Homo sapiens: one gene and its partner. The protein of the gene in region 1 purifies or fractionates together with the protein of each later gene. This does not show direct contact. Each region holds a gene or a part of one and is shown on either strand. Other genes may lie near its edges.

Region 1 (7,301 bases):
TTTGGACAGCAAGGACAATTTGAGAGAAGAAGCTCAAGAAAAGTGATGGAATCTCTTTTTTTTTTTTGAGATGGAATCTTGCTGTGTCACCCAGGCTGGAGTGCAGTGGTGCAATCGCGGCTCACTGCAAGCTCCGCCTCCTGGGTTCACGCCTTTCTCCTGCCTCGGCGTCCAGAGTAGCTGGGATGACAGGCACCCGCCACCACGCCTGGCTAATTTTTTTTGTATTTTTAGTACAGATGAGGTTTCACCATGTTAGCCAGGGTAGTCTCGATCTCCTGACCTCATGATCCACCCACCTCAGCCTCCCAAAGTGTTGGGACTACAGGCGTGAGCCACCGTGCCTAGCCAAGTGATGGAATCTCTTACAGCTTCTTCTCAGGCATTGGACATTTCAGGACTATTCACATTTAGCTGAAGTCACATGTCCAAGTTCAGTGTCAACTATTGAAGAGCTATGTTCTCCTTACAATTGAGGCACCCTTAAGACCCAGAGTCCATAGTGGTGATTTACAGTCCTCCTACAGAGAATAGAGGAGTTAATAAATAATTGTAAAAAAAAAAATTATCCTAGAAAGAAACAGACACGCAAGAACTTCATACTTCTGTTGGCAGCAAACATTTGTGAATTACATGCTGTGGAGGTGGAACAAAAAGGATGAGAAAATTTATAGAAATAATTTGATGCAACAAGAAATAGCAGCTTTGCAAATATTCCCAAGAGCAGAACAAGTAAAGTGGATTGAAAGAGTCTAAAAATTCTTGCTGTGGTTATTTGGAGTCAGCATTAGAGGGTCAGAGGCAGGCCCAGGTGCGGTGGCTCACGCTTATAATCCCAGCACTTTGGGAGGCCAAGGCAGGCGGATCACCTGAGATCAGGAGTTCGAGACCAGCCTGGCCAACATAGTGAAACCCCGTCTCTACTAAAAATACAAAAAATTAGCCGGGCGTGGTGGCACAAGCCTGTAATCCCAGCTATTTGGGAGGCGGAGGCAAGAGAATTGCTTGAACCTAGGAGGTGGAGGTTGCAGTGAACCGAGATTGTGCCACTGCACTCCAGCCTGGGCAACAGAGGAAAACTCAGTCTCAAAAAGAATAGGGTCAGAGGCTACATCCTTGAATATAACAAAGCATGGAATGGTGGATTCCCCACATTCTGACCCCTCCTTGAGTCCCTGGGATGAGGTCTCCCTTCAAGATCACAACTAGCTGTATTCCAGGAACAGGAACAGGGTAACACTAGACTCACATCCTCTCGCAAGAGACATTTCTGGTGTCACAGTGAGCTAAGTAAATGCAAAACTGAGACAATAACAATAGCTGCTATTGATCGAACAATTATTCTGTTCCAGTAACTTTCCAAGCATTAAAATATTGCTTACTTTTCACAATAACTTCATAGGATCGATGAAATTTCCAGAACTTATAGATAAGAAATGAAAGTTCTAAAAGTTTCATTTCCTATCATGAGGGATTTACTCAAGAGACACATGTAAACTTGTATATGCAGAAGCTAAATGTGAGTTTGTTTTCTGCTACTATAGCAGAATGCCTGAGACTGGGCAATTTATAATGAACAGAGATGTATTTGGCTAATGGTGAAGTGGCATCGTTTGTCTGGGGAAATACTCAAGGTTCATTGTCCTGCTCTAAGGAAAATGAAGACGCAGATGCACGAGGTGTGGATTTAATAGTGGAAAGTTTAATACATGAAAGAAACAAGAAAAAAGCTCCCTTATGTAGATGGAGGCGGGTTCCAAACAGATCTCCCTGTTGCCCATGGGATTCGGTTGGTTTTATAGAGGGGCTTGAGGAGGTGGGGTCTGATTTACATAGGGCCCAGGGGATTGGTTGGACCAAGTGTGTCATTTACATAGCCTGCAAAGAGGCTGGCCATCCCACCCCAATTGTTTATTATGCAGATGGGGTTTTTACCTGGCCAGTGCCATGACACCATCTTGTCTGCTCCTTACAGTGCACGTGGCTGGCAGAGAAGGGAAGATGGAGCCACCATCTTGAAAACGTCTAGTCCTTAGTTTCTGCCAGCATTCACCCATGCAAACTCCCAGCTTGCTTATCTATGTCTGCAGCTCAACTTTACAGGCTGCTCTTTGTTAGAAAATGATTTGAGGCTGCTTTTCATTAAAAGAGAAAAGCCTTACTGAGGACTCTCATGCCCTTGCTATCTGCCTAAGTAATTCCTTCTTAACTCCTATATCAGGAGGCACCTAGTGGGAGCTAACCGAATCGTGGGGGCAGTTTTCCCCATACTTTTCTCATGGTACTAAATAAGTCTCATGAGAGCTGATGGTTTTATAAGGGGTTTCCCTTTTCACTTGATTCTTATTCTCGCTTTGCCTGCTGCCATGTAAGACATGCCTTTTGCCTTCCACCATGATTGTGAGGCCTCCCCAGCCATGTGGAACTGTGAGTCCAGAGTCCATTAAACCTCTTTCCTTTATAAATTACCAAGTCTTGGGTATGTCTTTATCAGCAGCGTGAAAACGGACTAATACACATGTAGAATCTCTGGACCCCATCCTAGACCTGATAAATTAGAATCCACATTTGAACAAGATCCAGAAGCAATTCATATAAACTTTGAAGCTGGAGATGTTCTGGTCTAGAATAGTGTTTGCAGCTTCCTCCATGTTAACATTTGTGCTGGATTATCATTTGTGGTGGGGGTATCATTTGCATTGTTGGATCTTGAACAGCATTCTCAACCTCAACCCCCAGGTGCCAGTAACATCTTCCTAGTTGTGACAACTAAAGTTTTCTCAGATATTTTCAAGTGTCCTTTGGTGGCAAAATCATCCCTGCTTTTTGTTTCTTTGTTTTTGTTTTTTTGAGATGGAGTTTTGCTCTGTCACCCAGGCTTGAGTAATGTCAGCTCACTGCAACCTCTGCCTCCCGGGTTCAAGTGATTCTCCTGCCTCAGCCTCCTGAGTAGCTGGGACTACAGGCGTATGCCACCATGCCCAGGTAATTTTTACATTTTTAGTAGAGACGGGGTCTCACCGTGTTGGCCAGGCTGGTCTCGAACTCCGGCCTCAGGTTATCTGCCTGCCTTAGCCTCCCAAAGTGCTGGGATTACAAGTGTGAGCCACCACATGCAGCCTCATTCCTGTTTTTAAACTACTGGCCTCAAGCATGAGAACTGAAAACATCATGAAGGAGTTTCAACCATTCATCCCTTTCTTGGTTTATAATGTTGAGCAGATCACTGAATCTTTCTGAGCCCCATTACTGCATACGTAGAATGATGCTCATGACAGTACCGACCACATAAAATAAACATTTATAAACATTAGATAAAATAATCCTTATAAGGTGCCATTCTCAGGACAATGTGCATAAAAGGGTCTAAATATATCTCTTGTAATTGGTACACATTTTATCAATGAAGAACTAAAAGACAGTTCTTAATTTGTCTGACAAGCATTAAATTACAAATTGTTTTGGTGAAAACATCATGAAGCCAAGGAGTACAGCCAAGCCATGATTTATATCAAAGGAACACAGTACTCCCTCTAGTTGAAGAATGAGATGGAAATTTTCAGATGTTGGGCCAGGCACAGTGGCTCACGCCTGTAATCCCAGCACTTTGGGAGGCCAAGGCGGGTGGATGACCTGAGGTCAGGAGTTCGAGACCAGCCTGGCCAACATGACAAAACCCCTTCTCTACTAAAAATATAAAAATTAGCTGGGCATGGGGGTGAGCACCTGTAGTTCCAGCTACTCGGGAGGCTGAGGCAGAAGAATCACTTGAACCCAGGAGGCGGAGGTTGCAGTGAGCTGAGATCACACCACTGCACTCCAGCCTGGGTGACACAGTGAGACTCCGTCTCAAAAAAAAAAGAGAAATTTTCTTATGGTATCAGAGGCTGTATTCCCACAATAAGTCGATGCTTTGGAGATTTAAGGGGAGTAGGCAAGATGGGTTTCTCAGTCTTAGATGTGAAGAAAACTTTGTCTCAGGATTGGGACAGTTGTTACAAAGTTAGACTTCTGGAAGAAAGGAGAGTTCATGTTGAAAGAGTAAGAAAGACTGGTTCATCCAGTCTCTTGGGAACAGAGAATCTGCAGGATTTTTTTTCTTTCTGTGCAAAACAATGTCCCACAGGGACATAATGTACTCAGGGTTTCAAATAACAAGAAGAAATGTGCCTATTGAGCAGATGTGGGAAGCTATAAATATTTCATCTGCTGTTGTCCCTCAGGCACCCCTGGGTTGAATGGAATATCATTGTTTCTTTTGAAGTCCTAAGTCTAGCTCAGAGACAGATGCTTGACTCTTTCCTGCTGCCTAGTCTGCTGAGCAGAGCTTCAGTCTCCACCATCAATCATCCAGTGAGGAATTTGCACTTACACAAGGAACTCTTCCTCGGAGAGATCCCCTCCTGGTGAGTTGGAGAGCCCAGTGGGAACTGCAGGAAAACAATAGATGGAATAGATGCAGAGAATATTTACCTGAGATCACCTGAGAGCCAGTCCAGCCTAGCCCAGAGCCAAGATATTGCTGCGGTTATTTGCTTGGTTGATTAATTAACTAAGTAATGTCTCGTTTTATGATGCAAAAAAAGAAAAGTGAACACTGAACTAGGCAATGCAAGGGTGACGACTATTGACATTTAGTGAAGGTCACAGAAGCCCAATTAGAAGGAATAGGAGGTGTAAAATGATTTTTGTAAAAGTACAACATACATCTTTGTAATTAAGGGGAGTAGAGAAATCGTGTATTGGCTGTGGAGGGATATACAGTCATGTAAAGACATTTCCTTTTTACTTTTAAAATGGAGCATATTTCAGTTTGATTCTATGCCCGTGAGAAAAATCCAGATGAACGGATTGCTTGCAAATACCATTTTGCAACAGCAGTTCATAATGCGTATATTTTGCAGGATTTTCTCTTACGCTAGGTATTCAGATAATACAAAATATTTAATAGGTGAGAGACTATGTACTAATGAGCTGTACTTGCATTTATTTCCTCACTTGCGTGGCTGAATATATTTGTGTGTTGTTTAGGCCTGTGATTTGATGCTTCTAAACAACTCACAGTGTATAGGATAGACTTTATCAAAGAGAGTGATCTAGCCCAGAATATCAATAGTGCTGAGATTGAGAAACACTGTGGCGAGGAATATCTGCTGGCTTCCTGGTTTTTGGAGTTTTGTTGTTTGTTTGTTTTTTCTTTGAGACAGAGCCTCACTCTGTCGTGCAAGCCTCTGTCCATGCTACTACTGGAATGCAGTAGCATGATCTCAGCTCACTGCTGCCTCAACCTCCTTGGCTCCGGTGATCCTCCCACCTCAGTCTCCCAAGTAGCTGGAACTACTGGTGTGCACCACCATGCTAGGCTAATTTTTGTATTTCTTTTGTAGAGATGGAGTTTCACCACGTTGTCCAGGCTGGTCTCGAACTCCTGGGCTCAAGCAATTTACTTGCCTCAGCCTCCCAAAGTGCTAGGATTGCAGACGTGTGCCACCACGCCCAGCCTGTATGTGTTTTTAATATTTTATCTGTCTGGAGATTGTTTCCACAAGACATTATGACACTTATTTCTGTCACCAAAATTAGAGTACCCGTTTGCCATCTGTTTAAAAATTCCAACACAAATCTATGACAGCTGAGAAAGTTCCCCACTCCATCCCCGCTCAGGCTGATGGACGTGAGATTTCTTACTGTTTTCTTAAAATATTACTGACTTTGAGCAAATATTCATATATTTGATCAAGATCTTGATTGCCTTATGTTTACTATATGCCCATTTTTATACAGTTACCAGCGTTTAAAATTATTTTTTTCAATGATTCTTTTTCAGTTGACTTTTGGGGAAATTTATTAGCCATAAAAAGTTTAAAATATTCTTTAGTTAAATATATACCTATCATCTTACTTCTGCAATTATTGCCTTAGTTAAGGTGATTTGCCCACCCACAGATTTCATATGTAGTTTCCCTGTTTTCATGGAAAAGGCATTGTTTACTTTTTTTTTGAGACGGAGTCTCGCCCTGTCAACCAGGATGGAATGCAGTGGTGCGATCTTGGCTCACTGCAACCTTCGCTTCCTGGATCCAAGCGATTCTCCCACCTCAGCCTCCTGAGTAGCTTGGACTGCAGGCAAGTGCCACCATACCCATCTAATTTTTGTATTTTTGGTAGAGATGGCGTTTCGCCATATTGCCCAGGCTGGTCTTGAACTCCCGACCTCAAGTGATCCACCCACCTGGACCTTCCAAACTGCTGGGATTACAGGCATGAGCCACCGTACCTGGCCGATATTGAAGTTTTTAATTCCTCTGACTTTGTGTAAGATGTGTGAGGTAGGTGACCAATTTTATTTATTCCAGACAAATAGCTGTTTATGACAGCATTTATTTAAATATCCAATCCTTTCTAACTAAATTGAAATACAAGCTTGCTGTATATTAAATGCCCATGTATACTGAGAACAAAGTCCTGATTCATTCAGCAAATAATAACTGAGCATCTGCTCTGTGCAAGAGTTTTTTATGAACAGTGTATGCCATATTCTTTTATATCTAGATTTTTGCCAATTTATTAATTTATGTTGATATGATTAAATTATTATTATAGCATGTCAGTTAATTTTCAATACTTCAACAATTTTATTCACTACAGTTGATTATATTTAACCTGGTTTTATTCTCCTGCCATTCTTTCTAATTTTATAATTCTTTTTTTAATAATGCATACATCGTCACATCTTTTTATGAAAATATGAAGGTAGCCAGGCACTGTGGCTCAGGCCTGTAATCCCAACACTTTGGGAGGCCGAGGTGGGTGGATCACGGGGTCAGGAGATCGAGACCATCCTGGCCAACATGGTGAAACCCCGACTCTATTAAAAATACAAAAATTAGCCAGGTGTTGTGGCTCATGACTGTAATCCCAGCTACTTGGGAGGTTGAGGCAGGAGAATCGCTTGAACCCAGGAGGCGGAGGTTGCCAGTCAGCCGAGATCGCGCCACTGCACTCCAGCCTGGTGACAGAGCAAGGCTCCATTAAAAAAAAAAAAGAAAAGAAAAAAGAAAGAAAGAGAGAGAGAAGGAAGGAAGGGAGGGAGGGAGGGAAGGAGGGAAAAAAATACATAAGTGAACATCCATGGTAACATCCCTGCTCATTTTGACCTTGTGCTATAATGGTGAAAATACAGTAGAATTAAATAAAGGTGCATGATGCAATGTCATAAGGTGTAAATCAAATAAAGAATATTTCTTAGTGTAAAATAATAGAATTGTCAGGCCAAGCGAGGTGACTCATGCCTATAATTC
Region 2 (7,037 bases), about 11 Mb from region 1:
AATACAACAAGGTCACAGCACTGGGAAGCAGCCAGGCAGGATTCACTCCCAACCTGCCTGGCTCCAAAGCCACTTCTCAGGGACCCGTGGCCACCAGACTCGCCTCCCTCAGCCTCAGTTTCCGTTTCTGTAAAATGGGGGTTGTGAGGATTAAATGAGATGGCATATGGAAACCTCTTAGCCCAGGGCCCGGTGTACAGTAGGTGCTCAGGTTGTCTTTTACAATTTTTCCTTAATATTATTATTTTTGAGATAGAGTCTCGCTCTGTCACCCAAGCTGGAATGCATTGGCACGATCTGAGCTCAGTCAACCTCTGCCTCCTGGGTTCAAGTGATTCTCCTGCCTCAGCCTCCCAAGTAGCTGGGATTACAGGTGTGTGCCACCACGCCTGGATAATTTTTGTATTTTTATTATTTATTTATTTTTTTGAGATGGAGTCTCACTCTGTCACCCAGGTTGGAGTCCAGTGGTGCAATCTTGGTTCACTGCAACCTCTGCCTCCCGGGTTCAAGCAATTCTCCTGCCTCAGCCTCCCAAGTAGCTGGGATTACAGGCACATGCCACTACGCCCAGCTACTTTTTGTATTTTTAGTAGAGATGGGGTTTCGTCATGTTGGCCAGGCTGGTCTTGAACTCCTGACCTCAAGTGATCTGTCTGCCTCGGCCTCCCAAAGTGCTGGGATTACAGGCGTGACCCATAACACCCAGCCTGTATTTTTAGTAGAGACAGGGTTTCACCATGTTGGCCAGGCTGGTCTCGAACTCCTGATCTCAGGTGATCCGCCCGCTCCGGCCTCCCAAAATGCTGGGATTACAGACGTGAGCCACTGTGCCTGGCCAAATTTTTCCTTATTATTCTTACTGAAAGATGGCACCAGGCCAGAAATCCAGGCCACCTGGGTCCAGAGCCAGCCTCTTTCCACCCCACCCTGCCCCAGGGCTCAGATCCCGGCTCCACCACTGCTCAGCCCCATGTGGTCACTTTCCCTCCCCAGACCTGAGTGTTCTCACCTGTGAAATGGACACAGCGCTGGGCATGGGCAGGGGGTTCCCTGAGCAGGATGGAAACGTGGGGGTAGGGGTTCCTCCCGTGGCCCGCAGTGGCCCCCGAGGCCAGACAGGGTTTGCCCCGTGGTGCGATCCCCATGCACTCAGCCCCGCCGCCCCGCGCCCGCCAGGTGCTGGAGAACCGGACCAAGGACTCCAAGCTGGAGATGGAGGTGCTGGAGAACCTCCAGGAGCTGAAAGACCTGAACCAGCGGCAGGCGCACGTGGACTTCGAGGCTATGCTGAGGCAGCACCGCCTGTCGGAGGAGGAGCGGCGGAGGCAGCAGCAGGAGGAGGACGAGCAGGAGACCGCGTGAGTCAGGGCCGGCCCAACCCAGCCCCACCTCGCAGCCTCTGCCCCGGCAGGCGCTGCCTCTGCCCCAGACCCTTTCCCCGCTCTCTGGAGTGTCGCCTTTGCAAGGACCCCTTTCCCACCGCCCATCTCACTTTCTCCCTTGTGGCGTCTCTCGAGGGGGTCCCAGGCCACTGCCGGGCACGGTGACTTAGCACGTGGTCGCCCGCATGGCTGCGGTTTGTCACAGCGAGAGGACACAGCAGATTCAGCAAAGGGGAAAGGCATGTGTGGTGTGTCGGGGGCCAGGCCTTCCAGATCCTCTCCTGGTGGAGCTTCGCAGGACGCGCCTCATCCCCTAGCACCAGCCTGGAGGACTCGAGAAAGGCGCCATCACTAGGGAAGCTCCTAGAGACCCAGCGTGGGGTTCCTATGGGGCCTGGTCCCACAGCCCCCGCTGCCTCACCCATGCCGGGATTCCAGACTCCAGAGGAAAGCAGGGGTCACGCATAAACCATGGTGTTTGCAGGAACAGCTGAAGCCCCAGAGCCCGTCCCATCCATGAGGGTGGGAGGCCCCCAGCACAGGCTCCCGGACACCCACCAAGGGACGCCCTCACCAGCCGCCTTCTGAGGACACAGCCTCAGGCCTCCTGGGTGAACACTTTTCTTTTTTTTTTTTTTTTTTTTTTTTTTTTTGAGACGGAGTCTCCCTCTGCTGCCCAGGCTGGAGGGCAGTGGCGCCATCTCGCTCACTGCAAGCTCCGCCTCCCGGGTTCATGCCATTCTGCCTCAGCCTCCCGAGTAGCTGGGATTAGAGGCATCCGCCACCAAGCCCGGCTAATTTTTTGTAATTTTTAGTAGAGATGGGGTTTCACCGTGTTAGCCAGGATGGTCTCGATCTCCTGACCTCGTGATCCGCCCGCCTCGGCCTCCCAAAGTGCTGGGATTGCAGGCGTGAGCCACCGCGCCCGGACGACGCTTTTCTTTTTCTTTGAGACGGGGTTTTGCTCTGCCGCCCAGGCTGGAGTGCAGTAGTGCAGTCATAGCTCACTGTAGCCTCCATCTCCCGGGCTCAAGCGTTCCTCCTGCCTCAGCCTTCTGGGTAGCTGGGACCACAGGGACACATCACCATGCCCAGCTAATTGTTTTTATTTCTGTAGAGACAGGACCTCGCTATGTTGGACAGGCTGGTTTTGAACTCCTGGCCTCAAGCGATCCTCCCACCTTAGTCTCCTGAAGTGCTGGATGACACGTGTGAGCCCCTGTGGTTGGCTGGTGAATGCCTTTGACGCCGACCACCTCTGAGCCCGCGTGCTGATCCCCTCCTTTCCTGGTGCCTCATCTCCCCTCCCTCCTTTAGAATCTGAGCTGTAAGGACAGGGACGTGGTGGCCTCTCCTGTGTCCCCAGGGCTTCCAGCAGGTAGGTTCTGGTAGGTTCCACGTCAGTGCCTGATGGGTGTGCAGAGCAGCGATACCGTGCAGAACAGTGTTGGGAGCCTGCGTTCATCCTGCACCTTCCGGGTGCCGGGCGTGGCTGTAACCTCACTACCCACACAGCCCTGGGGGTCAGTGTGATCTTCATCATGGAGGGGACTGAGGTCCAGGGAGGTCCAGGCATGAGCCCCACCAAGGTTACCCTCCAGGCTCCATCCAGACAGGCTGGTTCCGGCATCCAGGCACTTAACCACACCACTGCCCTCGGTGGACACGGAAAAGTTAATGTAAAAAAGTAGAAGGGGCCGGGCGCAGGGTCTCCTGCCTGCCATCCTGCACTGTGGGAGGCTGAGGCGGGCGGATCACCTGAGGTCAGCAGTTCGAGACCAGCCTGGCCAACATGGCGAAACCCCATCTGTACTAAAAATACAAAAACAAATTAGCTGGGCGTGGTGGCAGATGCCTGTAATTCCAGCTGCTCCAGAGGCTGAGACAGGAGAATTGCCTGAACCCGGGAGGCAGAGGTTATAGTGAGCCGAGATGGTGCCACTGAACTCCAGCCTGGGCGACAGAGCAAGATTCCTCCTAAAAAAAATGAAAATTAAAAAGTAGACTAGGTGCGGTCGGTGGCTCACGCCCGTAATCCCAGCACTTTGGGAGGCTGAAGTGGGCGTATCACCTGAGGTCAGGAGTTCGAGACCAGCCTGGCCAAGATGGTGAAACCCCGTCTCTACTAAAACTACAGAAATTAGCTGGACATGGTGGTATGTGCCTGTAGTCCTAGCTAACATTTTTAATTTTTTTAGAGACGGGGTCTCGCTATGTTGCCCAGGCTGGTCTCTAACCCCTGGCTCAAGCGATCCTCCCGTCTCAGCGTCCCAAAGAGCTGGGATGACAGGCATGAGCCACTGCATCTGGCCCCTTTAATCTGTTTTATGTTTAAATAGAGGAAGTGGTAACCACTGGGTTAAGGAAGTCCCAATGGGTGCTCTGCCCTCACGGAGCTCACTGTGTGGGGAGGGAGAGGGACAAGGAGACCAATACCCAGGACAACATCCATCTGGGTGAGAGAGAAGCCAGGATGCGTGAGCTTGAATTATGAGGATGAGCTTCTCAGAGGAAGAGCGTCTTGCATTGGGTATTGAAGGTCGAGTAGGAGTTCACCAAGCGAGTGCTTGGCAAAGGGGTCATCCCAGGTAAGGGGATGTAGGCCCCTGATTTTTAAAATCCTTTTTGCAGAGATGCGGTCTTGCTGTGTTGCCCAGGCTGGTCTCATGCTCCTGGCCTTAAGCATTTCTCCTGCCTTGGCCTCTAAAGGCACAGGGATTACAGACATCAGCCACCATGTCTGGCCCCAAGACATTTTTCTAAAAGACATTTTCTTTGAAGCTATATCCCCTGATTAGAGTTCTCACACTGTGGTTCTCACATAAACCACTCCCAGAATTAGAGACCGGCCTGGCCAAGATGGCGAAACCCCGCCTCTACTAAAAATACAAAAATTAGCTGGACACGGTGGTGCGTGCCTGTAGTCCTAGCTGCTCGGTAGGCTGAGGCTGGAGAATCGCTTGAACCCAGGAGGCGGAGGTTGCAGTGAGCCAAGATCACGCCACTGCACTCCAGCCTGGACAACAAAGACTCCATCTCAAAAAAGAAAAAAAAAATACAAAAATTAGCCGGGTGTGGTGGCAGGCACCTGTAATCCCAGGTACTTGGGAAGCTGAGGCAGGAGAATCGCTTCAACCTGGGAGGTGGGGGTTGCAGTGAGCCAAGATTGCGCCACTGCACTCCAGCCTGGGCAACAGAGCGAGACTCTGTCTCAAAAATAAAATGAAATAAAATTTAATAAGGCATAGGAACACGCCTGTGGACCCAGCTACTCAGGAAGCTGAGTGGGGAGGATCGCTTGAGCCCAGGAGGTTGAGGTTGCAGTGAGCTGTGATTGTGCCACTTCACCCTCCCTGAGTGACAGAGTGAGACCTTGTCTCTTAAAAAAAAAAAGTAATCTGTGCTCCCCCTACTCCCTCCCACCCCTGCTCACTGAGGGCAGGAAGAGGTCTCCAGGCACCCAGGCCCCTCGCCACCCCAGCAGGTACATCCCAGGCACTGTTCCCCAAACAGAGCACGTCCAAGTTCCCATCTTCCATCCCACAGGGCCCTGTTGGAGGAAGCCAGAAAGCGAAGACTGCTGGAGGACTCCGACTCAGAGGATGAGGCTGCTCCCTCGCCCCTGCAGCCAGCCCTTCGGCCCAACCCCACCGCCATCCTGGATGAGGTAAGTGGGGTGCCTGAGTCCTGGGGGCTCCCAGGTGAACTAGGGACAACTGAAGCCAGGGGTCAGCTTGACTTTTTCTTTTGTTTTTTGTTTTTGTTTTTTGAGACGGAGTCTCGCTCTGTCGCCTAGGCTGGAGTGCAGTGGCACGATCTTGGCTCACTGCAACCTCTGCCTCCCAGGTTCAAGCGATTCTCCTGCCTCAGCCTCCCGAGTAGCTGGGACTACAGGCACGCGCCACCAAGCCCAGCTAATTTTTTGTATTTTTAGTAGAGATGGGGTTTCACCATGTTGGGAAGGATGGTCTCAATCTCTTCACCTCGTGATCCGCCCGCCTAGGCCTCCCAAAGTGCTGGGATTACAGGCGTGAGCCACCATGCCCGACCAGAACTTGACTTTTTCTTAAAAGGCCAGTCTGCACCCTAACTCCTCCACCCTGTGGCTGTAGCCCAAAACACCCATGATCAGGTGTAAATAAGTGGGTGTTGCCTGGTGCCAATAAATCTTTATTTATAGGCGGGGTGCAGTGGCTCATGCCTGTAATCCCAGCATTTTGGGAGGCCAAGGCAGGAGGATCGCTTGAGGCCGGGAGTTTGAGACCAGCCTGGGCAACAAAGTGAGACCCCTTCTTTACAAAATTACAAAAATTAGTCATGGGTGGTGGTGCATGTCTGTGGTCCCAGCTGTTTGAGAGACTGAGGCAGGAGGACCGCTTGAGCCCAGAAGGTCAAGGCTGCAGTGAGCTGCATCAGTATGACCGAACTCCAGCCTGAGCAAGAGTGAGACCCTGTCTAAAATAAACAAATAAAAATTAAGGCTGAGTGCAGTGGCTCACGCTTGTAATCCCAGCTACTCAGAAGGCTGAGGCAGGAGAATCGCTTGAACCCGGGAGGCGGAGGTTGCAGCGAGCCGAGATCGTGCCACTGCACCCCAGCCTGGGTGACAGAATGAGACTCTGTCTCAAAAAAAAAAAAAAAAAAACTTAATTTACTAAAACTGGTGGCAGGCCTATGGGTCTGTAATTCGCCAACCCCTGTTTAAGCTGCCGAAAGAAGAGAATGTAAAGAAAGAACATAGAAATTTATTTCTCAGTCATAACAGCCCTGGGCTGACAGTCTAGGACTTCGGGCAGCTCTGCTCCTTGGAACCATTCAGGGACTCAGCCTCCTTCCTTCTGGAGCACGGCTTCCTGCGCTGTGGCCACAGCTGGCTCAGAGCACCTTCAGGGTCCGGCTGTGGGAAGGCAAAAAGTGTGTGGAGGACCACGCAGCCTCAGATGCGGCCCACCTCAGTTCTTCTCTCATGCCAGAGGCCACAGCATAGTCACAAGGCCCCATCTGGTGGCGAAGGAAACTGTGAGATGCATCCTCCAGCTGGTCCGTGCCTGGCTGTGCTGCCAACTAGAACGAAGGGAGGCCGGGCACCGTGGCTCAAAGTGCTGTAATCCCAGCACTTTGGGAGGCCGAGGCAGGCGGATCATCTGAGGTCAGGAGTTCGAGACCAGCCTGGCCAACATGGAGAAACCCTGTCTCTACTAAAAATACAAAAATTAGCTGGACATGGCGGTGCCTGCCTGTAATCCCAGTTACTCGGGAGGCTGAGGCAGGAGAATCACTTGAACCTGGGAGGCAGAGGTTGCAGTGAGCTGAGATTGTGCCATTGCCCTCCAGCCTGGGCAACAGAGTGAGACTCTATCTCAAAAAAAAAAAAAAAAAAAAGGAGGAAGGAGTTTTGGTGGATGACCAGCATTTTCCACCACAGCTGACTCATCCAAGGTGGCCTCAGCCACTCTGGTTTGTTCATTGAAGAAGGTGGTAAAAGTAGGGGCTCATAAACCAATAACACAGACACACAGAAACGATTGTTCTCGGCCGGGCGCGGTGGCTCACACCTGTAATCCCAGCACTTTGGGAGGCCAAGGCGGGTGGATCACGAGGTCAGGAGATCGAGATCATCCTATCTAACACGGTGAAACCCCATCTCTGCTA

What was found. The genes of interacting proteins can lie anywhere in the genome.
Region 2: the proteins of OR7C1 (region 1) and YJU2 purify together in Homo sapiens (affinity purification with mass spectrometry; 3 studies listed by BioGRID and IntAct, with this or other methods). This does not show direct contact.

What each region holds. Positions count from the first base shown.
Region 1 is NC_000019.10:14,832,179-14,839,479, reverse strand, and holds the start of OR7C1 (olfactory receptor 7C1), read left to right. Parts: upstream 1-4,294; 5' UTR 4,295-4,406; intron 4,407-5,387; exon of another isoform or gene 5,388-5,503; intron 5,504-6,168; exon of another isoform or gene 6,169-6,329; intron 6,330-7,301. UniProt on the Homo sapiens protein: Odorant receptor.
Region 2 is NC_000019.10:4,257,063-4,264,099, forward strand, and holds part of YJU2 (splicing factor YJU2), read left to right. Parts: intron 1-1,179; coding exon 1,180-1,361; intron 1,362-4,931; coding exon 4,932-5,052; intron 5,053-7,037.